Linked DNA regions of Homo sapiens: regions 2, 3, 4, 5, 6 and 7 are each reported to be linked to region 1. The links are microRNA targets in miRTarBase. Many come from high-throughput screens and were not tested one by one. Region 1 holds a microRNA gene; each other region holds the end of a gene's coding sequence.
The links. The annotated mature microRNA hsa-miR-211-5p reads UUCCCUUUGUCAUCCUUCGCCU and lies in region 1 at 2,272-2,293, opposite strand. An mRNA with a match to its seed (bases 2 to 7 or 8) in the 3' UTR can be bound and repressed. Matches are read on the target gene's strand: a 7mer-m8 pairs with bases 2 to 8, a 7mer-A1 pairs with bases 2 to 7 and ends in A, and an 8mer does both.

Region 1 (4,131 bases):
CAAAAAGTAACCATAGTCAAACATCGTATTCTCACTTGTCCTAAATTCCAGCTTTGTTGCAAACTTTCTAAGGGCAAATGAAGTTGGAAATGAGGGAGAGAGAATTCCATCAGGAACACCCTGCCTCTGATGGTTCCCCTGGATGCTGACCTGAGGAAATGGGAGAGGAGATCTAGCAAATCTTCCTGATTTAAACACGTTTGGAATGTCTAAGCAGACCACTTTAGATTTTCTCCTTGGCCCGACAAAGAGGGAGTTACGAACCCGCCCTTCCTCGCGCGTCAGAAATCCTACCCGCCTTCTTCACAGTACTTGTGCGCAAAGGACAGGATGTCCGAGGCACGTCCGCTGCCATCACAAATCACCACAGGGATGGGAGGCTCTTCTTGCAGGTATTCCAAGACGATGGACACCACGTTAGGGCCCCCCTCCACCACGAGACCCACGAGGGGCACGCCCTGCCCCAGTCCTGCAACACAAACCACATTCGCCCATACCACCTGTGCCCTGCACTGTCCACCCAGTCGTTTTAACTCCTGAAGTATGGGGAAGAGTAAAAACATTACGACTTGGGGGATGTTCTATCTGGCTGGAAGGAATTCAGGCATGTGATAACAATTTTCTTTTTCTTTTCTTTTCTTTTTTCTTTTTTGAGACAGAATCACACTCTGTCCCCCAAGCTGGAGTGCAGTGGCATGATCATGGCTCACTGCAGCCTCAACCTCCCTCTCAGCTCAGGCAATCCTCCCACCTCAGCCTCCTGAGTAGCTGGGACTATGGGCACATGCCACCACACCTGGCTAATTTTTGGTAGAGATGAAGTCTTGCCATGTTGCCCAGGCTGGTCTCAAACACCTGGGCTCAAGTGATCCACCTGCCTTGGCCTCCCAAAGTGCTAGGATTACAGGTGTAAGCCACTGTGCCCAGCCCAGTTATCATTCTTGCATTCTGTCACATATTATGGCCTCATTGGGAAAACCAGGACCTCAAAGTCTGAAACTTTCTGACTCACATATGGTTAAACTCCTGAATAACCCACCCACCTGATGTTGGGGCTACTTCAAGGTGACCACTGAGAAATATTGGAAGGTATTCCTGGCTGGAAAAATATCCCCCTGGCTGTCCTAGCCTATGGTCTGAAATTCCCACCCTGATGGCTGTCCCTGAAGAATAAGATGATGAAAGGGGATCTGGACCAGCCAGGGAAATTGCAGTTCAATTCCTGGCTTCTCCCTTATGACACTGGGCCAATCACCAAATCACCAAGAGCCTTAGACAGCCATTTGTAAAAGGTGAACAATCACAGTGCTTCCTTTAACTCCTGCAGTTGTAAAAATATCAGAATATGTGTTTGGCTAGCAAATAATTTTGTAAACGTTAAGTAGCATACAAATGAGGTACACTGTTCTTGTTGACGTTTCTGTCTTCAGTGGCTGGAATAAAGTGCAGATCTTGGACGCAGCCACTTGGACCACTAGTGGCCCATCAGTTAATGACCTGTTCCCAGAGTCCTCCCTCTGTCTCTATCAGTTAATAGGACTCTTCAAGAACACAGTGGGTACCAACTAACTTTTGGTGGCAGAACCTGCAGGCATGGCTCTGGGAAGCAAGAGGTGGCAGGAAGATTCCAGGAAGTTGGGATTCTGGAATGGGAAGGAAATGGGAGTGGAGGCACATTTGCCTACTTCCTAATTTTATGCCACACTGGCCATGACAGATCACACTCTGAGCCTATTTCACCAGCTGTCCATTAGTTGTGATGGGAATTAGTTGATCGATATTAACTAAAGGCAAGTGGAAGTATCGTTGGTCTCAGCTCTGAAGGGCTTCAGATAAAAATCTGCCAGCATTGGTTAAGAGAAGATTGGAGAATTTCAAATGAGCCATTTCAGAGTTTCTAATTTGCTTCCATGAGGTGTTTCTACAGTCAGGGACTCTTACATATGTTGAATAACTCTGCTGTGTCCACCAGAGTAATTACAGCTAAGTTCATTTCAGCAGACATGCATTGAGGGTCTGCTTTGTGCAAAGCCCTGACCAGGAGATATTGGAAAAATGAACTAAGATATCCTGGACTCCGCCTTTGAGATTTCCAACCCAAGCAAGGATTGATATTTTCAATCTTTAGGAATATGGTGGCCAAATCACCTTCTTTTCGAGCAACAGAGTAGAACAGGTTCTTCTTGGCTTAGGCTGGAGTCCTCGAAGCTCCGTGCTGTGGGAAGTGACAACTGAGCACCCCTTTGCTGTCCCTGCCCTGCTCAGAGCCCTAGGCGAAGGATGACAAAGGGAAGCCCACAAGTCACATGGCCAGGTGAAATGGGGTGTTGTAAAAACTTACAAGTCCAGAAAAATTAGAGATGTGAGAACAAAAAACATTCAGTCATCGACCAATGTATTCTTCGAGATCTGATTCTCGGAAATCTACAACTTTTCCTAGTAGGCCATCCCCATTCTACCCACTCTGCAGCATCACAGTCCCATACATGATGATTCCCAATGACCATTCGCCAGGACTAGATGGTCTCCCACAAAAATCTTGCCAGTAATGGGAAAAACAAACTGCTCTTTCAGATCATTTAACAATTGTTTGACGTTAAGAATTACTGGAGTATAAACATGCTCCAAGAGATTATACCAGTTATTGTAATTCTAACCAGTTGTTATCATTGTTTCTTCTGGTTGAGGTTTGCGTCTTTCTCTCTAGTTCGACCTCAGCTTTCGTCTGACAGTGACAGCTCCCCCTCAGGACCAGCAAGGATGATGCCCCTTCAGGAGCAGATGGCTCCTGCAGCCCTCTCCAGATATGTCCCCACCTGGCCATCTTAGTCTACATGAAAGGCCCAGCATTACAGAGATATTTAATAATCACATAATACTTATCAGCAAATAGAAAGAATCCTACTAAATCTTTGAGAAATTGTTTTCCTGTTAAAACACTTAAAAAATAACAACTAATTACAGGGAACAAGAACCACTGGGCAACAGGGTGGGCAAGGCCATCACCATGGCGAGCACTGAGGGTTATTTCGTGCTAACTTGTGAACCTGGGGCAAAGCATCCCCATGTAGCCCAGTGAATGTGATTTGGTAGGTGGCTAAGGTAAGACATCTAGGTGAGTCATTTTCTGTTGACCTAACAAGAAGCAAGGTTAATCTTCTAATCCCCTTGGGCAATCAATCTCCTTCTCAGCCTTGTTTCCACTGTGATGGCATCAGCCCAGGAGGACTGCGTGCCTTTGCCAGCACTTACTTGTGTTGATCTTCTGCAGGGAGATGTGCTTTTCCAGCAGCCTTCGCAGCTTCACCTCGGCGCCATACTTGCCCAGGGTGCCATTGTCAGCCAGGATGAAGTGGGTGTGGGAGTTGTTGAGCACAGAGAGCTTACTTAGAGGGTTGGACATGGTCTGGTACACTCTTGTTACCTGACAAAGTGCACAGCGCAAATCAGACCTGCAGGACTTGGATGTTAAGACCAACAAGGGAAGCAAGCACAATACATATGTGTGGAGTGACTGCACTAAAACTTATTCTCACATCTCTACCCTGCCTTTTGAAGGTTTTATTTTTGCCAATTGTTACATTAAAATAGAAAGAAAGTTAATTGTTTTAGATAATGACAACCTAGCAATTGCACCCCTGGCATTTATCACAGAGAAATGAAAACCTATGTTAACCTCAAATCCTGCACTGGAATGTTTATGGCTACTTTACTTGTAACAGCCAAACTGTTCCTCAACAGACAAATGGTTAAAGAAACTGGTGCCTCCATATCATGGGATGTCAGCCAGCAGTAAAAAGGAATGAAGACCAATACATATGGCAACCTGGACGCGTGTTCAGAGAACTATGTGGAGTGAAAAAAAAGCCAATCCCCAAAGGTTACATTACTGTATGATTCCATTTACAGAACCTTCTTGAAATGCGGGGTGGTGCAGATTAGTTGTTTCCAGGGGTTAAGGAAGAGGTGGGGGTAGGAAGGAGTGAGGTATATGTATATGAAAGGGCAACAGGAGGGATCCTCGTGTTGATGGAAACATTCTGCACCTTGACCTTATCAATGACAGTATCCGGGTTGTGATCTTGCATTATGGTTTTGCAAGATGTTACCATTGGAGGAATGGGAAAGGCT
Region 2 (4,271 bases), not on the chromosome of region 1:
CTTGGGGCAGACTGGCCCCGAGAGGGAGCCACCATCTCCCCTGCTCCAGGGTCTCCAGGGTCCGAACCCGTGTTGGGATCTGGGTTAGGATTAGGGTTTGGAGCTTGGAGCCTGCCTGTTAGGACCCCCGGCCCCGGCGCCGACTGGAGCTCGCTGGAGGCCACAGGACCACGGCGGATGGCCTGGCTGCTTCAGGGCGTACCATGCCCGCAGGCAGATGTTTATTATTAAAAACTACCGACGTTCATCAACCAGGAGACCCGCAAGGCCTGCGCACTGAATACGGCCCAAATCCTGTTCAGTGGTCTTTGAAAGTTAAAAGAAAGAAACCTATCGCCCACGTCTATGCTGAGGAACAGCTTTGAATACGAGCTAAGACCTGGGAGAGGGCCAAGTGGGGGTGGTGGGGAACACTGCTGGAGGATGTGGGGCTTTGGCAGGGGTTTTACGCACCCTCCAGCACGAGGGTGGGGGGTCCCAGGGGACGCTCAGGACTCTTTCAGTCTTTGCGGAAGGTCCCGTCATCACAAGAGCCCGCGCGGGAAGGAAAGTTCCTGCCTTGGACATGGTCAGGGCCGAGTCTTCAAAGTCTCCAACTATCCCCACACAGGCAGCACCTTTGGGCTTTACTAGTGGGATTTCTTCCAGAAGGGGGCCACGACATGGGGAGAGAGAGCTCCTCATTATTTTCAAGGCCAGGCTTTTCCTAAACCCGATTCTGGCTTCCACCTTCTAAATTTAACCAATGAAGAAGCTGCTTCAGCCAACCCTAAACAGGAGTGTCAGATGGGGAATCCTCCCTCCACAGTGCCCTGGCCTGCCCGCCTTTGCGGCTCTTTTCCCGCTCCGAAGTCAGCACCTGCCCCGCTCCAGAGAGGGTCAACGAACTGGGACTGATTGTCGATTATGCCATACCAAACCCAGGTTGATTTCGCTCCGCAGGATCCCTCCTTCCTTCCTCCCAAAAGTGTCCCCAGATAAAGACTGGAATTATAGCAAAACGAATAACGAGAGTCCATCTTGGGGAAGGAAGTTACTCTATCCTATGTTATTTTACTTCTTATCTGTTCTTTCATTAATTTGGTATAACCCTGTTTCTATGCTGGGTGGATAAAATGGAGGGGGCCGGCGGAAATGCGCTCAGCGCTAACGACAGCCACAGAGCCACCCTTCTTACTGCCCCTTGACTGCGGCACGTAAGAGCAGAGGCAAGCGCTTTTCCAAGTTGGTATATTCGAGAGAGTGATACGCATTAATCAAAAGGGAAAGACTATCCCGGATATTTTAATAGTAACAGGAACAAAGATGACTCGAACCCCATCAAATGAAACGATATTTTCATTCAATTGATCGCAAAGTGTCTTCAATTAATAACTTGGCACTTATTTAAAAGGTTTAACAGAATTGGAGGCGACACATTTTGTACTGACAACACGTCATGAGATAACATCTTTTGTTTAAAATAACTTAATACACTAGAAAAAAATATGTCAAATATAAATAATTTTGTTTTCATGGAGAACAAATAGTTACAAAGCTCAACCGCATACCAAAGTTCAGTTAGAAGAGCTTTTCCTCTTTCTTGTAAATTAGAAGGTAAAACAAAAACAAAAACAAAACCCCACAAACTTAGGCTTGCTAGCGAATTGGGATACAGACTGGCTTAGTCCAAGGTATCCCAGTTTAAATAGCTACATGAATTGAAACAAACAACCAAAAGAAAAAAAAAAACAAAAAAGAAACAAACAAACAAAAAAAAAAGGTTACTTGAATAGATACACCTTTGTGAGATAAAATGCAAATGTTGAAAGTCAGTCCACACATTATAGTCAAAATAAACTTTGTTCGTGTGTATCAACATATCTTACACAAACCTAGTGCCTGTATCTAGCTGGGTGTTATTTAAGGTGAATTTGACGGGATAGAGAGGGGGAAATAAACCACTGTCTTCAAATAGGACTTCAGGAAACCAACAAGAAGGAACACAAGAAAAGGGGAATGGTGGGAACTAATACTGATTGAGCGCCTACTGTGTCTGGCACAGCGAGGCGCTGTACCTTCATTATTTCATTTGGTGGTCTTGTTTTCTTTTTCCTTTCCCCACATATTCTGCCCACCTCTGTCTTCTTAGGACAATGAGTGTAATTTTTTCCCTTTCTGACTTTTTTCTTTTGTTCCCCAGGATCAAAGACAGGGCAAATATATATATATATATATATATATATATATATATATATATATGGCAAATATATGATATATATATATGGATATATATATATCAATTTCCAGATACTTTTGGTATTGTTTTTCATAGTGAAGATGAAAATGGAGTGAGTGCATGGGAGATAAGGGGGTGGGAGGAGACACACCATCAATGGAATACAAGTAACATGCAAACCGGAATTTACTGTCAGCAGTCCAGACAGTTTTGCCATAATAATTTCTCAGAGAAATCATTGTCTGTGGCATTTTTTTGTGTTAATATTATTTTTCTCTCTCCTCGTTTTAATATTTTCTCTTTTCTTGCTCTTCCATACATGGTGGGTTTAAACTCAAAGCATCTGATTCAACGTAAAAGGAGGCCCGCCTCTCTCATCAAATTTCTCGTGTTAACGTGAACTTCGCAGAAAAAGGTCAGTTTCAAAACCTGTGAACTTCCCAGCTGCGCACTTTTTTCATCTTAGTTTTTTAAATAAGTATACCTCTTCTTTCTGCTTTGCCTTCTTAGCGCATTTTTAAAAACACACATTTAAGTTGGTAACTCCCCCCAGTCTCTCGAGAATCGTCTGGGTTGTTTTTCCATATTTTTAAATGTATAAAATACTTTAATTTTAAAATTTGTTTTTGCTCCTTGGTTCTCCAATTTCAGCTTCTGCCAAATAGCAGTTAAGAAATAAGTTCCCTTCCTCTTTTTCTCTCCCGTTTGTCTTTCGATTTTTTTGTTTGCTCATTTTTTCATTGTTAACAAGATTTTTTTTTCTATGCAAGAGTCCATCGTTGCAGCTTTGCGGTGAGCCAAACTCCGCGGTTCCAGCACTCCCCTGTCCAGTCTCTCTCCAGACTCCCCCAAACCCGCTCCTACAAAACCCAATTCTAGGCCCTCGAGTAGGAAAACGGGCAGGAGCCACGGAGCCTGCGTGCCTCGTGAGATCCCTGGTCCTGCGTGGAGTCTGGCTTTCCGAGTCCAAGATGCGATAGGGGACGAGGGATGGTCAGTGAGGCGGGAAGAGGGCCGGCTCCCGAGGTCTCAAAGGGGTAACGGAGAAGCAGCGGGGCGCGGAGGGCGTGCAGGCTGAGTGCCGCGGGACAGGCGCGACATTGGTGCTGGCGTTGGCGTCACAGACCCAGGGCTGCGGCGTGCTTTTTGGCTTTCAGTCTGAGATCGGCGATGCTGGAGTTCTTGCTGGTGGTCTTGGCGGCTGCTGCGGCCGCCACTACCGAGGCGGCGGAAGCCGAATCCGCGGCCAGCGTGGCGAGCGGCAGTCCGAAGGGCGGTGCTGGGAACATCATGTAGGGCGCGTGCGCGGCCAGGTGCGGATGCAGGTGGTGGTGCGCGTGCGCCACAGCGCTGTCCAGCTGCAGCTGCGCCTGAACCTGAAAGGACAAGGGCGTCACGTTGCAATGACTATCCTAGGGTGACAACAGAATAGAAACAGAGCATTAACGGCGTCCAGCTTGGCCAGAGAGAGAGTTGGGTTGTGTTTGGGCACGGGGAGAGGGCATTTGGCTGTGCATCTTGTTCCGACAGTGACCTTCTCAGCCTGTTGCTGAATCTGGGGTTCCACATGGATACTCCAGTGTCCCCTGGGTCTCCGAAACTCGCTTAGGGTAGGCTTATTTCCCCGGACCCCGGGAACCCCCTTCTGCAGGAATGTGGCCGTCTCCCCTGGGAACTGGGCTGAAATGGTATATTGGAAAGACTGCGGGTGAGGACCCTTACCCTCTTCTCTTGATGCTGCCATGCATCTCTTACCCCACTACCAAAACAACGGAGTATCAACAAGCAAACTACGCAACTTTTTAATGTCATTCAGGGAAGTTACTCCATCTTCACCACAATAGGCACAATTGTGAGTCGGTACTTCTAACCTTTATTGCCATAACAATTACCCAGGGATCTCGTTAAAATTCAGATTCTGATTCGCAAGGTCTAGGTTGGGGCCTGAGATTCTGAATTTCTAACAATCTCCCAGACGGTGTTGTTGCTGCTGGCCCAAAGATTACCTTTTGAGTAGTAAAGGTCTCCTTTTAAAGTCACCCCTCCCTCTTTC
Region 3 (4,271 bases), not on the chromosome of region 1:
CAGCTCTGTGCATGCATGCCTGTCTCTAGGGATGGTTACACAGGCATCACAATAGCAGAAATTCCTCATGCAGTCTCTAAGAAGGGTAAGGTTCAAATTGCAGGTAAGGTTGCAGTCAGCCTTAGGACTTTCTCATTGAAGTGTCCCTTGCCTCAGATAGCCTTGCTTCTAGGCTCTCAAAATCCTATTCCCGGCTGGGCGCGGTGGCTCACATCTGTAATCCCAGCACTTTGGGAGGCCAAGGGTCACCTGAGGTCAGGAGTTCAAGACCAGCCTGGCCAACATGGTGAAAACCCGTCTCTACTAAAAAATACAAAAATTAGCCAGGTGTGATGGTGGGCGCCTATAATCCCAGCTACTTAGGAGGCTGAGGCCAGAGAATCGCTTGAACCTGGGAGGCGGAGGTTGCGATGAGCCGAGATCATGCCATTGCACTCCAGTCTGGGCAACAAGAGTGAACTCTGTCTAAAAAAAAAAAAATCCTATCCCCAGAGTGTGCTCAGCAGGACATGATAATTTCCCAGGTCTTGTGTGTCTACACAGAGGCCAAAGGGAGCAGTTTGGCCCAGCAGACCAGAATCCCAAATCTTCAGGCCTCAGGAAAAATCCTGGACAAGAATTTAGCCACAAGTCAAGAGAGAGGCTACCCTAGGAGCCCCAAAGGAGGAGAGCATTGAGTAGGGGATGTAGGGTGCGGGCATCTCCCTGCTCAGGCCAGGGGATTAGCAGATACCCTTGTAAGCAAGACCCCCTGGTTTCTGCACATTTTCTCCTTTCGAACGGGGTACAAAAGTACCTCAGGTGAAAGGATGAGGAGGTTTTTTTCAGTGTCTTTATTGTGGGGAAAAAAGCCAATTAGTGTCAGCTTAAGCCTGGCCCAGCTAAAGGCAGTGCTGTCTGGATAGTACTGGGGACACTGGCACTCAGGAGGGCATGACTGTCATGGGCCTGATCCTGGAGAAGATGTGGGATTCATGCTCAAAGTCAGCCCCAGGAGGATGTCCAGGGCTAGGCAGAGCCCGCAGATGGGCATTTCTTCAACTATAGGGCTCCTTCTACCCAGACCGCAGGAAAGGGACAAGTGCCCCCTCATGCAGCCACCACTCAGGTCCTGAGGGCCAGAGTTGTCTCTGTAGACACAGGCAGGTCAGAGGCCAGGACAGACATCCCTAGATAACTGAGATTTGAGGATTTGCAGCTGTGTTCAGTGCTTCTCAGGGAGCCTGTGTCCATAGCCAGGCCTCACCAGCGTGGGCCAAGGAGGCCAGGTACCTCTGGCTACCCTCTCCAATGTCCAGGCTCTGTCTTTTACTGCTAGCCACCATGAATATTATATAGTACTATAAGTGTTTAACTGTACATAGCACATATGAAAGCACTTTTCACAGCTATTGTTCATAGAACATGCTTATAAGCCAGAACCATAAAACCTTAATTATAATACATCAACTCCATACTTCCAAAGAACATACCTTCCCACAGGAATATCGACCAGTACTTTTCATCGTACATTCAGTCGTTCATCGTACATAGCACATTACAGTCAAATAAATCCTCGTCACCACAGATATCCCCCCCCAGATAGTGGTTTCTCGCTCACCATCCTCCGTGAAATCAATATCCTGCACAAGAGTGCTACTCTCCTCACTCCGGGCCCAAACACTTGGGGGTAGCTCTTCTAGTCAGCCAGAAAGTCCTTCAGCCTCGCCAGGAGCAGTGGCTCATGTTTGTAATCCCAGCACTTTGGGAGGCCAAGGCAGGCGGATCACTTGAGGTCAAGAGTTTGAGACCAGCCTGGGCAACATGGTGAAACCCTGTCTCTACCAAAAATACAAAAATTAGCCGGGTGTGGTGGTGCATGCCGGTAATCCCAGCTACTCGGAGGCTGAGGCAGGAGAGTCGCTTGAACCTAGGAGACAGAGGCTGCAGTGAACCAAGATCGCATCACTGCACTCCAGCCTGGGCGACAGAGCAAGACTCCGTGTCAAAAAAAAAAAAAAAAAAAAAAAGTTCTCCACCCCCTCCTAGAAAAAAATTTTCTCCTAGAAGGAAAATTTGTCTGACTCAGAGAAAATTTAGACAAGAAGAGAAAATCTGTTTTCATGCTAGCACATCTGAAGACAATGGTCTCTGTCTCTCATGAGCAGGGATATTTTTCCTTCCCAAATAGATGTTTCTTCTAATAGCTGAGTGGTACTTTCTGTCTGTGCTGTGTTTGAAGTATAAGTTTTAGAAATCCCAGGAGGCTTCGAGGAAGGCAGAGGTCAGCTTCAGCTTATACTGAGGGCCTGCTTGGGCTTCTCAAAGGTGACCAGAGCCCGGGAGGGAGGATGACAGTGGCCCTCCTCAGCCACCCCCATCCCAGGTTTGTTGCTCCTGCTCAGATGCCATATTTTTAAAATACTTTATTTTTTACATAATACTGTCATTACAAAAAAATACAAAAAAACTACTATAAAAACATTCGGGGGTTGTCAAAGTGAGAAAACCTAAAGACCCCACCCCAGGATCTGGCTGAAGCAGTCTTCCCCCAGCTTCTTCACTATGACCTTTATACAACTATGGGGGTGGGGTGGGATCACACAGGCATAAAAGGGCTGGAAATTCCCCACACAGCCTCCAAGGGTAAGAAATGAGTAGCTTCACATATCACAAAAGTGGGATTTGGAAGTTTGGGGGTGGCTAGGCCCTGAGTTCAGAGGTGTGGGGAAAAACCTGTGACCCTGAATCTCTTGGTGGGGAATAGCTGCCACCTGACCCCAAAGCCCTTTCCCTTCCTGATGAAGGCTGGTAGATGGGCCCTGTCCCCCACCTCTTAGCCTTAATACCTCAGGCCCCATTCCCTGCCCTCCACCCTTGAACACTCCTGAGAGCAGCAGGGAGGACAGAACCTCCAGCTCTGCAGGTGTAGGCAGGGCAGCTGTTACGGAGGCTGCTGAGGAGCTCACCCCCCTGCTCCAGATGAAAAGTGTCTCGTGCTCAAGTCCCTGTTCACAGGTTGTGAACTTTCCCTTCTTATCCTCTCTCCTTTCTCCCAGAGAGGCACAGACAGCTCTAGGTGAGTGCTTCTTGTGCATGAATATGTGTGCCATTACCTTGGACACTGTGGACCTGGGGGTGGGGCTGAGAAAGCAATGTCCTTTCTAGTCTTTTCCACCCCCAACAGCAGGAAGCCAAAGGGAAGGGAGGGGACTGGTATTAGCAAAGCTGAGGGGAGGAGGACATGCTATGTACAGGCATGGATAAGGAATCTCTACATATCTTCAAGTAGCACTCAGGTCACTCTCCAGCCACTGCAGTGGAAACTGGATTGAAAGCTAGTGACATGAACATTGACCCCTGGCCTGGGCTAGCTCTCCCCACCTCCCTCCCACTCCCCCCAGGCAGCCCAGCTCTAAAAGGGGTCAGGGACAGGAACATTTTCCTGAAAACCAGTGGCTTTTTTTTGCATTTTAGAAAAAGTTGCCAGTGTCCAGTGGACATCAAGCTGGGTGCACATTGAGTGGAGTGAGTGTTGGGGGTATTGCTGTGGTAGGCTCTGGACTGGCTGGGGCAGAGCCTAGGAACAGGGTAGGTGCTGCTTAAGGATCTGTCTTGTCTGTGGTGTTAATCTGTCTGGGAAGCGAACTTTGAACTCAACAATGAGGTCTCCTCGCTGAGTTGGCACTTTGGGGAAGGGAAGGCCCTCCCCACGGAGTCTCTTCACGGTGCCTGGCTTGATGACATCATTGCAGGGCAAAGGGATCACTCGGCCGTCGATAGTGGGAATGTTCACAGTGCAGCCACACAGCGCCTGGGAAAGACGAAGCAGAAAGTGAGGAAAAGGTGGGGTAAGGTGAGTGGGAAGGAAGGAAATAGACTGAGGTGGGGAAAGAATGTGCCAGCTGGCGGGAAGAGAGGGAATGTCCCCACCATCTCCCCAGCACACACACACAGCCTGACTAGGCCCCACCTCCTTGAGGCTGATCAGGGCACTGTAGAGCACGTTGGTGCCATCTCGGCGGAAGTGTGCATGGGGCTTGTCTTTGAGCACAAAGACGATGTCAGCAGGGATGTTGTCAGGTGTGGCGTCGCCTTCTTTGGGGAAGGTGATCTTGGTGCCTTCCTTCCAGCCACGCTTGATGACTATGTGCAGGATCTTGTCCTCGGTGCGCACAGTTCGCCCATCAGGGTTGAGGCGACGCCTTGTGATCTTCATGCGCTTGGTGGAGCCATGGTAGATCTCCTCCAGGGACACCCGCAGCTCGTGCACCACTGGGGGGTCCTGCACC
Region 4 (4,000 bases), not on the chromosome of region 1:
GGATGTAGTTTATCCATTTACTAGTTGCAGGACATTTGGATTGTTTTCAGTTTGGGCCAACTAAGGCAAAGCCTGTTCTGAACACTTGAACACATATCTTTGTGAGGACATATGTTTTTATGTCTCTTACATAGATTCCAAGGAGTGAAATTGGGGGGTCATATGGCGAACATATGTTAAACTTTTTAAGAAACTGCCAAATTTCCAGGTATTTGTAAAATCATACACTCCCACCAGCAACACATAAGGGTTTAGAAAGTCTGTCTTCAAACATAATTATAATGATGATGATAGTATTAGAAATAACATGTCTTGTTAATTTTATATTTTCTTTTTATGTTTCAATTTTTATTCAACCAGGATCCATTCAGTGAAAAAAATGAGTTTGGAATACAGCTTACCAAAAACTGAAACTAAATATCAACTCTTTCTGTTTCTAATTCTAGACTTTGTTTTACTAGCATATTTAATGAAAAAGAGAATCAGTAACAATGCATTTTTAGGCTCACACCTGTAATCCCAGCCCTTTGAGAGGCCGAGGCGGTTGGATCACGAGGTCAAGAGATTGAGACCATCCTGGCCAGCATGGTGAAACCCCGTCTCTACTATAAATACAAAACTTAGCTGGGCGTGGTGGCATGTGCCTGTAGTCCCAGCTACTTGGGAGGCTGAGGCAGGAGAATTGCTTGAACCCGGGAGGCAGAGGTTGCAGTGAGCCGAGATTGTGACACTGCACTCTAGCCTGGGGACAGAGTGAGACTCCGTCTCAAAAAAAAAAAATGCATTTTTAAAAATAAATGTATAGTATGTTTTACCATCTTACAGAGCTAGTCATTCCTTACTCTACTTTTTTTCAAAAATTTCCCTGGAAAATGAATTTACCTCATAAAATAACATGTCAGCATACTTGAATTCTAAAAACAATCCTTTTTGCTTGCTTTTTGGTTTTATTGTAATTGAGTTAACGGCTGACATTTCATACTCTCTCTCTCTATATATATATTTCTATATATATATTCCATATATATTCTATATATATTCCATATATAGATATTCCATGTATATATTCCATATATATAGATATTCCATGTATATATATATTCCATATATAGATATTCCATGTATATATATATTCCATATATAGATATTCCACATATATATATATATATATATTCCGTGTGTGTGTGTGTATGTGTGTGTGTATATATATATATATCTATAAAACGACCCAAAACCCTGAATTGAGGATGCCTATCAGCAATCTATAGGCCTTAATGTGGAATTTAACTACAAATACTAACAACCCAATGGTACCACAGTCTATCATTTCCCTACCCTGAAATCAATCTCTCCTACTCTAGCCACCATTTCTTTACTTTTAAAAATGTATGATTTTGCTCCTTTTCTTCCCATGTGTGTCAGGCCCACTCTACAAATGTTGAATCCAGGCTTGTCTGAGCCCATGTGATCCCACGGTCATTCCAATGTGTGAGAAAGTGGGTACTGGGAACACTCTGGAAACAGTTTAGTTGCTCCTTATAAAGGCACACAGGAGAAAGGAGTATCCTTTTCCTACCTCTGGGAGTTGCTGTGAAAGAATAAGAAACCTAAAGCTGCTGCAGGGGTCCTCCGACCATCGCAGGAAAGCTGACGTGCTGTGTATTAAGAGAGATGAGCGATGAAGTTCAGGATCGCTGGAGGTGCCACTGGCCAGCTGAGTTGAGCAATCCTGGAGACAACCAGCATTGGATCTAACGGCTATGTGAGATCATGGGTTAAAAAAAAATAAAGCCTGCTAGATGGGATTTCCTGCTATTAGCAGCAGAAGGCATTTTCATTGGAATACTCATCTTGGCCGGGCGCGGTGGCTCAAGCCTGTAATCCCAGCATTTTGGGAGGCCAAGGCGGGTGGATCACCTGAGGTCAGGAATTCAAGACCAGCCTGGCCAAAATGGTGAAACCCCATCTCTACTAAAAATACAAAAATTAGCCAGGCTTGGTGGCAGGCGCCTGTAATCCCAGCTACTCGGGAGGCTGAGGCAGGAGAATCGCTTGAACCCGGGAGGTGGAGGTTGCAGTGAGCCGAGATGGCGCCACTGCACTCCAGCCTGGGGGACAAGAGTAAGACTTTGTCTCAAAAAAAAAAAAAAAAGAAAAGAAAAGAAATATTCATCCCACACATTTTCGTTCTTCTTTATAATTCCACACCACAAGTCTCATATAAAATGAGACAAATCATTTCCTCAACTTAGGGAAGAAAGCCTATTTTATTGCAACTCTGGAATCAAACAGATCAGACATAATTATCAGCTTATTATATTCCTATAGGATTTATATTCTTACAGGATTTCTATGTACTTGTACATACCTACTATATATGTACAAGTAACATGCAATATAGCTAAAAATAAAATATGCATAAACATTGAATTTGATTGAAAGTAAAATAATTGTCTCTGACAGTAGAGAAATTATGTTCAAATGATTATTACTTTGAAATAGGCTTCTGCATTGATTATGTACCGTTTAGATTTGACATATTTGATACTGACTCTCAAAACACAATGGAGAACCCTCCATTTTCTAAATTTGTCATTCTCTGAAATCTGTACAAGTCCTTGGATAATATTGTATTATTGAAGTTTCTGGAATGAAAAATTATATGCAATTTACAGTTATGGATACGCAGTATTTAGAATAGGTTAAGGAAGAGTTCTGATTGACTTGCTAGCTGGTTTCTCATCTCATGTTGGCCAAGTTGTTTCAGTTGTTATAATCTGTTCTCAATTTTTATGCATTGCCTTTTTAAATGTTAGGTTTACTTTTATTGACAAGTAAAAATTGTATAGTATATTTATGTTGTACAGCATGAAGTTCTGATATATGCCTATAGTGTGGAATGACTAAATCAAGCTATTTAATATGTGCATTACCTCACATACTTATGAAATACATATAAAAACCATTATGCTATTAGGAAATAATCTTCCCTTTTTCTTTTCTTTTTATTTTTTGTCTTTGGAGCCAGGTGGACAGATGATTTTTAACTCTGGGCTTCAGAAAAATTTAATAACGTAGTGCATTTGTGGCACACAGGGGGAGTACAGATGCATGGGAGGCCGTAGGGTTAGGTAAAGGGGAGCACTAAAGTTGAAGATGAGGCACTGCCATCAATGCTGGGACTTCAGGCCAAGGGCAGGAGCTGAGGAAGCCACAAGGATGGACATTTTCTGCAGAGTTGCTGAACCGGTAGCAACCAGGGCCTGAGAAAGTCCTCTCTTGTGGAAGAATAAGAGCCAAGCAGGAAAGCTTTTCATCATGCAAAGCTGGGGCAGAAGGTTCCCCCTTGAATGTGGTCATCTGCACTTCAGCTCACGAGTCCTGCAGAGAGAGAGGAAAGTGTTGTTTTCAGACCTGGTTCCACTAACAGCTTCTTTTCCTCTCTTTCAAGGACTCAGATGAGAGCACTGCAGGAAGAAGAAAAACAAGTTCCTAAGTCTCCCTGAACCAATACTCCTGCAGAGCACAGGCCTAAGTGGAGAGGAGGAGTTTTGGTATAAATTGCCTGATCAGGAATTTGGATCCAAAGTCTTTCCTGCTATTTCTGTCTCATGCCTTATCACCTCTGCCATCATTCTAGGAAAACTGAATCTGTTTCTAAAAGAGGATTAAAAGGTATTACCTGTTGGGTGAAGTCCAGAGTGCCCTGGGAAAAAGAGGAAAAGATATACACTTAAAAGGTATGGAAGCAAATCTATTCTCCCAACACAATGTCCTAGTCCCAGATCTCCCACCTGAGATTTCTCTAACACCACAACCCACACCAACCAGGGCAGAGAGGAGCAGAAACAGACCATGTGACCCATGAAGCATGACATGTCTGTCACAGGATCCAGTGTAATTGCATTAGCCTTAGTGGCTCTTCCTTAATTTGCTCCAGGATTTCAAACCAAAGGACCCTTAACTAGTTAACCTTTCTCTTATCTCTGCAGGCCACAAG
Region 5 (4,271 bases), not on the chromosome of region 1:
TATTTTTGAATGAATGAATTGAATGAAGGAACCTCCCTAACTTCCTGGTTCTGGGACCCCGTACTACCACCAGATGGCAGTATAGTATCAAATGTGGAAAGCGGATAGACACTTGCACTGATTTGCTTTTTATGTCTCAACAGAACGTTTGCACCTACACTTTAAATTGCATCCCGTGCTCTGCAACTGCTCCTGGTTTTCTTTTGGCAAGACAATCTCACTCTCTTTGCCCAAACTCTGAAGTATTACAGGCACCAGCAATGCGGTCAGTGCAGGTTAAGAAACTGTAATGTGCCATGGTTTACTCCTTAAACTTTCTTATCAACTTTTTTCCCTTCTGTTTCATGGTACTTTCAAATTGCATTTATTATAAAGCAAATAGAAAGTGTTTCACATAACTTCTCCCACAAGCAATTTTAATGAGCTTTGGCTTTAGTAATGGTTTTAATCATGTTAGACTTGATCTTCTAGCCACACAGCAACCACATCAACCCCTCTCCCAATTTGACAAGATTTTGAAAAACTAACACTTGTTTTATGTAATTAAAGACACACCTGTATAGCACACAGAGGTGTTCATTTGTCTAATGCAATTGGCCAGATAGAGACTCGTTTCTTTCTTCCACCCTAAAATCAATTTTGGGGTTTTGTTCCCTTAGTAGATACCATCTGAGTACTGGCAAATATGCAACTCAAGTTTTAGCTTTAAAGGCAAAGAACCAGCACTTATGTCTTAATACCATCTCTAAAATCAGTCTCTAGTGATGACAGATGCAGGTCTTTTTATTGAGAACTGTCCTCAGAATTTAAATTGGGTTTTTTGTCAAATAAGTTCGCTTAAACACACATACATCTTGAGTTATCGAATATAGCATTTTATAATGATATATTGAAGAATAAGGTAAAAAGCTTCAAAGCTGGACATTTTCCCACTGTGCTATATAGTTGAAAATGCGTCAATAATGACAATACTGCTACATGAGAAAGCCAACATGCTAACTTGTGTCTTGTAGCTTTCTCTCCATCCTTCATATGTGGTAAAGACTCTGGGATCTGCTCTCAAAATTCTACTTTATAACTGAATATAAAAAGTTTATGGCTGGCATATGTATACTATACATGAGTCAACACGTGGGTTAGATGTAGGCCACTGATAGGTACCTAAGTTACAAAATAATTCTTTAATGAGTAAAACTACTGGAGAGGTGAACACTTTTACAGTGTCTCTGGCTTTAAAAAATAAGATTGGCATGATAGCTAAAGCAGGGGTTCTAATTGCATAACTTAATTAACACCGAGACTTACTCTGAAAAGGATCTGCAAAATGTTACTACTATGGAGATCCTATGCGAAGCCTCTTACATGAGAAAGATCGGCCAAGAAAGTAGCGTCCACTCTATTAAAATTTTTTTTAGCCACTAAAGATTCCTATTAGGTAAAGTAAGGAGAACAAACATTTTAGCAGGATGTGCAGAACAAAGCCCCTCCCATCCCACAATGATTGATGCCCCATCATTAGCAGGGTAGCTGCCCATTTCTTATCTTGATTGACAGGTTAATAAGGGACCTGGGGCTATCTTTTCAGTATTAACACACAATCTTACCAATTACTTTTAAATTATTGCTAATCTGTCAGAAAATAACAAGCATAAGGAATAAAAATATCCGCGAAACAGAAACGTCTGCTGAAGCAGCTTTTACTTCCGGTGCCTTAAAAGGTTCAGTTAGAAAACTTGCTAGAATTTAGTCAATAGAATTTAGGCACCGGCAATTTTTTTAAAGAAAAACTTGTAGTTTATAATAGTTCATTGGTTCAATTAGGAGCGAAAAAGAAGGGAGTTTTGTAATGCAATTGTCCAGCAAAGGAAAACGCTTTAAATTGGGGGATTATGTGCGCAGACCACCTGTGGGGCATTCAGAGCCCTTTTCTATAAAGCTTCAACCCATGCCTAGCTGCCTGCAGGCTGGCTAACAATGCCGGGAAAAGCTGTTTAAAAGGCTGAGCACTTGTGCCTCCGGTCTTCACTAACTGTTACAAGTCTTCCTCTCTCGCGCTCTCTCTCCTTTTTAAAGTAAAAGTCCCACATCCCTTTAATGGAAGAACTTTAAGGCTCCGCGGTGGCCAATTGGTCTGCACTAAGAGGAGATAGGCAGCAGGGAAAGAAACTTCAGACTATACAGCACATTTGCAGAGGAGAAAAGATCAAAGTTTTTCAAACTCAAAAGACCAAGTTCCCTACAGATTAACCCTATTCATTTAGCTCCTCTTAAAGGAATGATGTGCTGAGCCACTGGGCAGACAGGTAAAAAGTTCAACAATTGCCGAAGCATTCTTCTGCTAATTCAACAGCCTTCTGCTCAAATAAATTAGCTTAGTCTTGACAGAGGAACAATAGCTTTTTCTCTAGGAAAAGCAGCACATTTGGTATACACAAGCACTGAAGGTTATTAAGATGTTAACCCGTTAGTTTAATCCATTGAAGAGCGCCTGCTCCCCTACCAGATTGTCAAGTGACTTCTACTGTAAAGGGTGAGCTATGGTTTAAAACATTAACCTCTACACCTCAGCAATGCGTTCCCTCCCTGGAACACCAGGTGCTTTCAAAATCACGGACTCCAGAAATGAATGCAGGGTTTTGAAACCTTTAGTGATACCATGCAGGATAAATAACAAGGCCTAAGGGGAATTACTGCCTTGCAGAAGTTCCATTTACATCCACTAAAGTGAGAGTTGTTATCCATGGATCAGAAAAGAGCTCCCATGAAAAACACCGTCTTTGGGGAAGGTGCAAAAACTCAATTTTGATTTCAGTTCAACAATGATATTTACTTGGCTAACAACTTAAGAACTAGAGTTTAACAAGTAATTTTCTCCATGCCTAAGGTCAGTGTACAGAATGACAAGCCAGAAAATGTCCATTTTCCCCATGCGTCCTTAGCAAGCACTTTAAAGGTGACAGCTCAGAAGAGGCGGGGGAGAGGGCAATGGTTAAATCATTTATCAAAAGTCATTTTATTGACAAAATAGAATACTTATATCTGTTCTTACAGGGGTAAGCCTCTAAACTTTTTACAAAAAAATGTACACACTATATCTTTGGATATATACATATTTTACACTTTTTTTTTTACAATTTAACAAATAATTATATAAATACATCCTCTAATGTAAGAAACCCGTATTTACGTGGGGTGTATAATTAAGACATTTCTTGTTTGTTTACTTAAGGCATTTGCCTGGTCATTAAGAATACCCAAACCGTGCAATCCCATCAGGTGGCGGTCACCCCTCCTCCAGGGTAAGTCAGGGGTGGGAGTTTACGTAGGAAGAGTCGAGGGAGAAAAAGAGGTTCTCCCAGGTGAAATCTGTGTATCTGACTGCAAACCCAGCCAAGTGCAGCCAGGGAGGGCTCCAAATCTCGGGTTCTGGAAACGCCGCAGAGTCCACCCTCCTCAGCCAACAGAAATTAACGCGTGGCGGGAGGAGCTCCCCGCACATCAATGGAGGAAAAGGGGCTGGGTCTGGGAGGCTTCAATGCCAGGTACTTTGTTCTAAGTGAGTCATTTAAGTCCCAGCTAATGGATACCATTAAGAGTTCATTATCATGCTAATAGCAATCAACACTGTGAAGGGGTGGGAACCTCAGCCCATCAAGTGTCCCTTCGCTGCACTTGGCTCTCCTCGCCCCCCTCCCCACCCCTCCTGGGCGCCCCCTCCCCTCCGCTCAGACCTGGGACAATGGCATCTGCTTTGGATAAGACACGGAGCTCGCCGTGCCCGACCGCCACGTCAGGCCAGTGCTGACGTCGCTGTAGAGGGAGCCCCCGCCGCCGCCCGGCCCCCCGCCGCCGCCGGGTCCCCCGCCGCCGCCGCCCCCCGGCCCGCCGCCACCCCCCGCGGCCGTGGCGCCCGCGCCCCCGCCCACCGCGGCGCCCTTGCTGGCCCAGCAGCAGCGGGTGCACAGGGAGCGCCAGGACTCCAGCGTCTTGCCGGACCAGACCCACACGCCCGAGGTGATGCCCACCACTAGGCACATGAAGTACTTGAGCATGAAGACGGCGTAGTCGGGCCTGCGTGCCTGGTCGGGCTGCAGGTCCCGCAGGCACGGGCAGTTGTGCGTGGCCTCCCAGCGCGGGCGGTTGTGCTGCTCGTAGAAGAGGCAGGCGACCACCACCGCGGCGGGCACGGTGTAGAGCACGGTGAACAGGCCCAGGCGGATCATCAGCTTCTCCAGCTTGTGCGTCTTGGTGGGGCCGTCCTGTTGCTTGAT
Region 6 (4,271 bases), not on the chromosome of region 1:
TTGAAATCATGGGAAAAGGTCAGACTGAAATAAAGGAGAATTTTAGAGACTAGACATGAATGAATACTTATTAGTAGAGTGTATCAGTGACCTAGAACTATAGTAATGCTGAGTAACAAAGATCTCTGAACTCAATGGCTTAATGCAACAAGCATTCATTTGCTCATCAGTCTGTGGGACAGCGTTTTAGGCTTATTTCAGCTGGATGGTAATCCTGGCATTGGCTGGTTGATGGATGGGTGACTCAGCTCTGCTCTGTGTGTCCTTCATTTTCCTGAAGAGACTAAAGCCTACCAGGGCATGCCCTGTTCTTGGTGATGACAGATAGACAGGATGTGAGCAGAAACACACAAGCATGTTTCAAGCAGCTGTTGTACGCCATTTCCTTATAACCCATTGGCAAAAGCAAATCAGGGTCAGAGTGGGAGGGCACTGAAAAGTCACGACCAAGGGCATGGACATACAGAGGTGCAAAGAACTGCATCCCCCTATGTATATCACTCTACCACACAAGCGTTTGACAAATCCGTGCTTCTCTCTCTTGCAGGAAACCAGAGAGTATGAGGTTTCTATCTAAAGAGAGCTACACTTGAGAAGGGGACTTGTGAACTCAACCACAATCTCCTCGAGACATTCATCCAGAGACCATGTGGCACTTGATTGAAACCCCAGAATGTCGACTGTCTTTTGTTTAGACTCTTTATCAAAGGTTTACTGTTTTCTTCCCTGTATTTATTATATTTAAAAGTGAAATAGGTGTGGGTTTGGATGTTTCGCGGCCTCAGCCAAATTCATGTTACAGCCTCAATTCTGAAGGCAGGTGGAAGACTTGCAAAATGGCAAACCGCGGCAGCAAAAACACAAAACAGCAGATGGAGTTTCTCCCATCAGCAATGCCATGCTAAGGCTGCATTGAATTGCATGCATCTTTGGGAACCATGCCCATGATGTTTTCAGTACAAATCTAAGTCCCAAGATTAGGTTGGAAAGGGTATTTCTTGTTGGCTTAGTTTGGGTTGGAATTTAGCATGGGTACTTAAACCCATTTGGAGAGCTGTGCTCCTAAACAAATTCTGTGTCCTCTCTTCCCATTTTGCCAGCTTCTGAAAGGTTTTTCCACAGCCCCTCCCTCTCACGGTTCTTCTGAAGGTAGCAAAGGTGTTATATAAACATTGTCTTTTACCACTCTGGCCTCGCTGGACAGTGACAAAACAAGAAAACGTTTTCTTTCTAGAAAGGTGATAAACGACCAAAGGCAATTTTTCAGAGACAAATGAGAGATTTGAGAGTTCCAATGAAGAATTGGGTGAGGGGGATCATTGGGTAAGGGAATTGGGTTAAAATGTTCTTTTCTTTGACACTCTTTCAATGATGAAAGAGCGTGTAATTTATGCTACAAGTGCCAGAATCGATCACCATGTTCAGCAAGCCACTCTCAAGCTGTGGTAATAAACACACAGGCTTGGGAGGCACCAGCGGCCCCACTCATACAGTGACAAGGATTTGTGATGGGAAAAAGGAGGTGCCATGTTTGGAAATGCAGGGGTGAGCTCTGGTTTCTCCTGGGGTTCTGGAATATCTCAGCCCTCAAAATAGAGGAGACTCAAGTGCACTGATTCTCTAAAAGGTGTCATCTTCAGAATATACTTGCCATCAAGTATTTCAGGGGGCGGGAGGGTCCCATGAGAAGAAACTATTTTTCTATTCTCCAAAGCTGTCTGGATGTTGGAGGGTGGTGTGAATGCTGACTGAGGAGGTGCAGAGAACAGGGGCAGGGGATTTTAAATCACAGCAGACCATCCAGTGGAATCCTGTATCATCTGATCTGAACATCAATGAAGACAGAGAGAGGAATTTCATTCAGAAAGGATTCCATAGCCCCACATCTAGTCACACGGGCATTCCTCTTATTTTATCAGGGTCTGTTTTCCCCCAACCCAGTGAAACCGGTGAGTGTGTAACTCTTGGGAAGATTCTTTTCTAAATACAGGTATAAAGAGAAGGTGGAGGGTGCGGGTGCATGGAAGAAATACTATGTGTGAAGCAGATTCACCTTCCTGGGACCGGTGACATGGTGGTGACAGTCAATGGCTTGGACAGACAGACGGGCACAGTGGCATTTGGAACCCTCTTTGGTGCCCTCCCATTCTCTCTGGAATTGTTTCAAGTCTGCTGGTTTTCAAACAAGAAAAGACCTTTCTGGCCATAGGGAGAATAGCAGGGAGTCTATGTTTTGGTGGTTACATTGGAAACATCTTAAGCAAGATAGGGAAAGTTGATTTTAGGCACACATGTACCCTCCTTGACAGCAGGAACTCAGACTTCAATCTTGGGGGTCTAAGACCAGAATATTTTCCTTCTGCCAGAAAAGAATCTTGCACATATACTCCTGAAGGCATGAGTGTGTGGTCCATGGCAAGAAATAGCTAAAGGCTGCTTTCCAGGACCCAAAGCCCCATTTAATGCAAGAACCAGAGAAGTGTTCTAGGCCATTAGTGGACAATGTCATGTTTGGAGAAAGATAACAACACAAATAATGTAACCTTTCCTTAAAAGGCAGAACTCAATCCATTTTATTTGATGCTTATTCTAACCCTAACCCTGGGTCACCTGGAATGAAGAACTCTATGAATAATATTTGATTTTACAACGTGTTATGGTTATGTGAAAACTAAACATTTGCCTTTTATAAAGACTGACAAAATATAAATCTTTATTCTAACCCTATCCCCAAAACTAGCCAGGCCACACCCCAGATGTTCTTATTGACTATTGGAAAGATAGAAAAGGCGTTGTGTTTTTTGTTTTTTTGTTGTTGTTGTCATTGTTGTTTTTTTCAGAAGACCAGTGTCTCAGTTCTGTCTTAGTAGTACCACACCCGTAACCGTGTTTTAAAAGTTTGTTTTAGCCTAGAGACAGATCATACGAGTTCAACAATGTACAGTGTGATTGAAAAGACAGGTTGGTGTCTATTTTTCTTTTTAAAATATCTGAATGTGTATTTGTAATACGTAAAGGTAAAAAAAAATAGTGCCAAAAATGTGCAAGGCATCTCATTACAGCTCATGTACGTCTGTTTTTATAAGATCAATATTAAAACCCATTGGGATTAAATATTTTTGAATAGGATACACTCTTGAGAAACTCGAGAATGGACTGAGCCTTCCTACAAGCCACTCTTTGTTTTTAAAACAGTGGGGAAATACGTTTACAGAGATTGTGAGCTTCAGAGAATGCATGTGATGGTGTGTATTACATGCTAATTCATATAAGCTGTATCTGTCAGCTACCACCCTGTGCTTTAAAAATGCACACACTCAACCCTCTTTAGCTTGGAGCTCAGCTTTTTGCTTTTTTTTTTTTTTTTTTGTAGAATTATTTAGCTAACATAAGTATTCTGATTGCTACCTGATGGCCATTCTTACTTAGTTTCATAGATGTGCTTTAACTATGATCCTTTGAAGCTCACCCCTTGGAGAGCCTACAGAACCTCAGGCTGATAGCTTTGAAGACTGCCAAACAGCCCAGAAGGAAGCAAAGCATCTGCATAATCAGGAGGGTTGTATAACAAGTAGTGATTTGGCAAATATGTGGGTAGCTTTAGGCTGAGGCACGGGCCTCAGGCAAAAATGCCCTTCGAGTGAATCCGAAGGGCATGATCTTCCTATGTCCTTGACTAGGCATGACGAGTCATTTGAGGTCAGATATTATTTGAGTTGTTCAGCACCCCCAAAGGTAGGCATTCTCCTGGGAAATTTTCATTTCCATTTTATCGCCAAACAAAATAAAAAGCAAAACAAACTTTCTAAGCTAGAATAATGAAATTAAGTCATTTTCCACTTTGTATATATTGATGCTAATAAAACAGATGAAAAAGACTCAAGTGTGTAGAATTTTTGTTACAGACACTTCAGGATGGCACCAAGTGGAATGTTTCCAGTTTCTGGGGATTGGGTTGGGGTAACACCTACAGATACTTTGAATGCTAAGACAGGACATCCCACTCTGGAATGGTTCTGGGACCTTCAAGGGATGTTTGGGACAAGATGGGTTTGACGGCACTGCCATCTTCCAATGTTCCACCATCCTCCCTCTCTTAGCTCAGCCTGTCATAAGAAAATACCACAGACTAGATGAATTAAACAACAGAAACCTGTTTCTCAAAGTTCTAGAGGCTGAGAAGTCCAAGATCAGGGTACCAGCCAATTCAGTTCCTGGTGAGAGCTCTCTTCCTGGCTTATAGATGACCTTTTTGCTGTGTCTTCACACAG
Region 7 (4,271 bases), not on the chromosome of region 1:
GGTGATGGTTCTTTTTGTTCTATTGTGGCGTCACATTCAGGCATTCAGGCGGAAGCCCAGATTTCCGCACCAGCCCCAGTTGATCTGAATCCTGTTCAGATCTTCTTCTTGAAGCTGTCCATTTTTTGGATTTCTTTAATAAAAAAGATTATCTTTATCATAGGTAAAAGTGTAGAAAGATAGGTCCCCAGTGGTGGCTCGCCATGGATGATGGGATGTAGTGTGATTTTCATTTTTGTGTTGCTGGTTTGGGGATTTGGGATAAGGGTTCTTGTTTATTTTTTTTTTCTCCTCTGTACTTTCTCAGCTGTCTGAAGTGGTTATGTATTTATTGTGTCATTGTTTTTTAAGGGAAAAAAAGAGTTATCACTAAATCTCTTTAAAAATAAATTACTTTAGCATCTGCTGACAGTCTGCCAGTGTTTGCACCTATGTATTGCAAAGACAGGAATACCTCCCAGTGCCCTAGAAATTGTAGGTGAAATCTTCTGTCTGCGTCTTGAAGCTCTCAGCTGTGTGTTTGTTTTGTTCTTTTTCTAGGTTACAGCACCATGAGCCCACAGGAGGACAGTGAAAATCCTCCATGCAACAATGACCCCTTGTCAGCCGGGGTCGATGTGGGAAACCATGATGAGGACTTAGACCTGGATACCCCCCCTCAGACTGCTGCCCTACTAAGTCACAAGTTCCACCACTACCGGTCACACCACCCTACACTTCATCATAGCCACCACTTACAGGCGGCCGTCACGGTACACACTGTCGATGCAGAATGCTAACAATCTCCTCACCTCCACGCCAAGATGAGATCTGGGAGCTACAGAATGTTCTGGAAAGAAAAAGAACCGGCTTAAAACCCACAGCAAGAGACCTCCCTTGTGTTTGTGCTTTGTGCAGAGTTGTTTGAGTCATTTCCTGCCTGTCGACATGGTTAAAAACGAGAGAAACAACAACACAGTCACATTTGTGAAGATGTGAGGCTGGTTCTGAAATGGAGGGGAAATAAGCCTGATGAACAGACCTGCCATAACACTAATGGAAGGTAACAGAAGGCGAACCTCCAAACACAGAGACGGAACCTGCAAGTGAAGCTGAGCCAGAGGAATGTTCCAAAGAGCCAGAAGCATTCAGCTCTCCTTAACTGGAAGAGAGAAAAATCTGCTCACCCAGAGACTGGAATGTGGCACATGCAGATACAAATGTGTGCATTGAAGATTTCGCTTTGTTTCTTAGCGGTACCTGGATACCACAGTTGCTGTATGGAACTCATGTTATGCTCTAAACGATGCATCTCAGAATTTCTAAGTAAAGGATTATTTTTCTACTATTTATTGAACTTTCAAACATTCTCAAACTTTGGGGAAAAGGAAAGGAAACACAGGAGAAGTTTTCAGCAGTTGCCCCGAGCTGTTTTGTGTGTAATGAAGTGGTTCTTTGATTAAGGAGCTCTATTTCTTATTTAACTGATATCCCACTGCCCCACTCCACAAAATAGGAAAATGAAGAAATCTTTCTCTCTGACTTGTTTACATCATTTCACGGAAACACATCTTTGTTTGTAATGCAGTATTCTTTCTCTGTGTTTGACAGAGATGGGGAGGGGCAGAGGAATTTAAGAGGTTTTAAAAGAAATGTTATGTTTCTTATGACTTGTTTCCACTCCTCGTACAATGCTATTCTTAGGTTTCTACGAAACCTAATGTTAGAACCGCATCCTTTCAGCTAAGGGAGGGTTGGATTTATTTTCCTTGTTTTAGAGACTACAAATTTTTAAATATCCCATTTTGACTGAGAATATTGACATATAAGGGAAGAAGTTTTCTAAATTGTGAAAGTCTGGTTCTTAATTAAAGAATTTTTTTTTTAATATCACGGTTAAAAGCTGCTGCCAGTTAGCCAAGACATTATCCACCAAATTGCTTTGTGATTTATACAGGGATTAATCAAATCTGGCTACTATAACATGGGGCATTGTAACTTTAAAGTAGTGTTTTAATTACAGTGATGTATTTTAGACTCACATTTTGTGATTCAAATATGTTATAAAGGCATTCTTGCACCATGGTAAAGAATGTGTGTGGTAAATCTCCGTTTATATGTAGTTGGAAAAAATTCACTGAATAATGTTTTAATGATAGGGTATTATGATACAATGTAAAAAACAATTGGTTCTTCAGCAGTACAGAAAGTAAACTATATATGTGCTATCAGGAAACCCCTTCATACTGTGTATAAAATTGCAATCTAGTGAAATAAACCGTATGCAATGGACCATTTTAGTGGCTACAGTGATTTGTTAATGTACCACTCCTTGTGCCTCAAGGCAAGTTACATTCATTTTGTAACCTAGCCAGGTCAGTTGCCAAACTGAAAATAGACCTCCTTTCAATGCTACAGTCAACTTCTAGGGCTTCTTGACCATCTAGATCAAATATGCAAACAACTTAACAATATAATGGGATAAAAATGTATAGAACATAGCTATCCCTTCCTGAGCATCTATATCCATGTCACTAATAATAAATGGTTCTTCTCTAACTGCTAGAAGGATTAAATGAGTTTCCTGCCTTCCCAGAAAATTAAACTTCTTCATGGGATACTAGTTTGTTTCCTAAGGTTGAGAAACTCTGTGTTAGGAAATTGATTGAGGAGGGAGAAGTGCAGTGGAAACTTGGTGCTTTCAAGAAAAGAATCACAAAACTTAGAGCTTAAAAATGAAATAGGTACCCCTATAGAAACACAATAACAGAATACATTTTGTATCTTTTGGGTTTTTTTGTTTGTTTTCGTTTTTGAGATGGAATCTTGCTGTGTCACCCAGGCTGGAGTGCAGCGGCATGATCTCTCAGCTCACTGCAACCTCTGCCTCCTGGGTTCAAGTGATTCTCCTGCCTCAGCCTCCTGAGTAGCTGCGATTATAGGTACTTGCCACCAGGCTCAGCTAATTTTTGTATTTTTAATAGAGACTGGGTTTCACCGTGTTGGCCATGCTGGTCTCGACCTCCTGACCTCAAATGATCATCCGCCTTGGCATCCCAAAGTGCTAAGATTACAGGCGTGAGCCACTGCACCCGGCCCATTTTGTATCTTTTGTGGTAAGAGTTTTTCCTATTCCGAACTTGAGGGGAAAGTAATTGAATGTTTATACCTAAACCAAAACATTGCTGAGTTTTAAAGATCCTGTGAAATATGACATATAGGCTGAAGTTTTGATCCTCTATAATTATCTTTTATCTAATCCAAGGGTTACATATAATGTCATTTAAACATTTGTTGTCATTGTTTAAAAGGAAAAATATGTTTTCAGAGACTTTTTATCATGGTGCCAGTTACCAGTGTTTGTTAAACATGAGTCTTCCCTGAGATCCTGAAGGAGGTCCTACCAATATCTTTTCATTCACCAAAGCCTCCTGCTGCCAGTAACCAACATTGCTTATCAATGTTGGTAAGTATCAAAGCTAAGGAAATTCCAGGTCACTTTATATAGCTAGGAAAAAAATGTCCTATTGTAGCCCAAGGAAAACGTGGCTCAGGCTCATGCTAGTCCTCATGGTATATACAGTTCATCTGCATTTCAGATAGGTTTATTTTAGAAATTTTGTAAACTATACTGTAGGGTATGTTTTTTCCTCCAGTTGATTGAATACTCAACTAAACCTCATTGATAATATATTTGAAAAACTTAGGCAATATGAACTTGTTTTGCCTCTCAGAGTGACTGTTATGTGGAAAGAAGTCCTGAAATACCACAATTTCATTTCCCCATGGCGATGGACTATCCTAATGATCACATTTTTAAAAATTTATATCTGGCAAAATAATTATATTCTTAAAACATGCCAGCCGGATCCAGGTGCCATGTCTCACACCTGTAATCCCAGCATTTTGGAAGGCTGAAGCGGGTGGATCACTTGGTCAGGAGTTTGACCTGACCAGTATGGTGTAACCCGGTCTCTACTAAAAATACAAAAATTAGCCAAGCATGGTGACACATGCCTGTAGTCCCAGCTACTCTCAAGGGAGGATTGCTTGAGTCCAGGAGGTCCAGGCTGCAGTGAGCTGAGATCACGCCACTGCACTCCAGCCTGGGCAACAAAGTGAGACCCTTTCTAAAAATGAAACAACAAAACAAAACAAAAACCCATACCAGCCAGGTCTCATCTATGTTCCTTTTGGTCTGTTTCAGAAGACAGGAGTAGTGATTTTCCTGGCTGAGATAGAATGCCATATTCAGAAATTTTTTTCTAATGTTTTAGTTAAAAAGAATTTTA

Region 2: miRTarBase lists SHOX2 as a target of hsa-miR-211-5p. Seed matches in the 3' UTR shown: 7mer-A1 at 2,899-2,905 and 8mer at 2,150-2,157.
Region 3: the mRNA of DNAJB5 is a reported target of hsa-miR-211-5p. Seed matches in the 3' UTR shown: 7mer-A1 at 3,008-3,014 and 7mer-A1 at 2,770-2,776.
Region 4: the mRNA of HLA-DRB5 is a reported target of hsa-miR-211-5p. Seed matches in the 3' UTR shown: 8mer at 2,987-2,994.
Region 5: miRTarBase lists FZD8 as a target of hsa-miR-211-5p. The part of its 3' UTR that is shown has no 7-base or 8-base seed match.
Region 6: miRTarBase lists SEZ6L as a target of hsa-miR-211-5p. Seed matches in the 3' UTR shown: 7mer-A1 at 1,326-1,332.
Region 7: miRTarBase lists CACHD1 as a target of hsa-miR-211-5p. Seed matches in the 3' UTR shown: 7mer-A1 at 1,807-1,813.

The regions. Positions count from the first base shown.
Region 1 is chr15:31,062,824-31,066,954 of GRCh38, forward strand. MIR211 (microRNA 211) reads right to left here and starts at 2,318; the gene lies at 2,209-2,318. It overlaps TRPM1 (transient receptor potential cation channel subfamily M member 1), which reads right to left. Exons shown (of 28, transcript NM_001252024.2): 7 at 3,253-3,424; 8 at 295-469.
Region 2 is chr3:158,094,691-158,098,961 of GRCh38, forward strand. SHOX2 (SHOX homeobox 2) reads right to left here. Exons shown (of 5, transcript NM_001163678.2): 5 at 1,215-3,594. The coding sequence ends at 3,337. Among named protein-coding and RNA genes, the nearest start is that of SHOX2, 9.6 kb to the right of the region's middle. RefSeq lists an enhancer at 3,308-3,477.
Region 3 is chr9:34,996,548-35,000,818 of GRCh38, reverse strand. DNAJB5 (DnaJ heat shock protein family (Hsp40) member B5) reads right to left here. Exons shown (of 5, transcript NM_001349723.3): 4 at 3,953-4,271; 5 at 2,391-3,793. The coding sequence ends at 3,560. Among named protein-coding and RNA genes, the nearest start is that of DNAJB5, 8.9 kb to the right of the region's middle.
Region 4 is chr6:32,514,372-32,518,371 of GRCh38, forward strand. It overlaps HLA-DRB5 (major histocompatibility complex, class II, DR beta 5), which reads right to left. Exons shown (of 6, transcript NM_002125.4): 5 at 3,683-3,706; 6 at 2,982-3,381. The coding sequence ends at 3,368. Among named protein-coding and RNA genes, the nearest start is that of HLA-DRB5, 14 kb to the right of the region's middle.
Region 5 is chr10:35,635,620-35,639,890 of GRCh38, forward strand. It overlaps FZD8 (frizzled class receptor 8), which reads right to left. Exons shown (of 1, transcript NM_031866.3): 1 at 2,628-4,271. The coding sequence ends at 3,726. Among named protein-coding and RNA genes, the nearest start is that of MIR4683, 3.5 kb to the right of the region's middle. RefSeq lists enhancers at 835-2,695, 1,876-2,498, 3,185-4,046.
Region 6 is chr22:26,379,719-26,383,989 of GRCh38, forward strand. SEZ6L (seizure related 6 homolog like) reads left to right here. Exons shown (of 17, transcript NM_021115.5): 17 at 548-3,878. The coding sequence ends at 577. Among named protein-coding and RNA genes, the nearest start is that of ASPHD2, 47 kb to the right of the region's middle.
Region 7 is chr1:64,690,783-64,695,053 of GRCh38, forward strand. CACHD1 (cache domain containing 1) reads left to right here. Exons shown (of 27, transcript NM_020925.4): 27 at 541-2,271. The coding sequence ends at 779. Among named protein-coding and RNA genes, the nearest start is that of RAVER2, 52 kb to the right of the region's middle.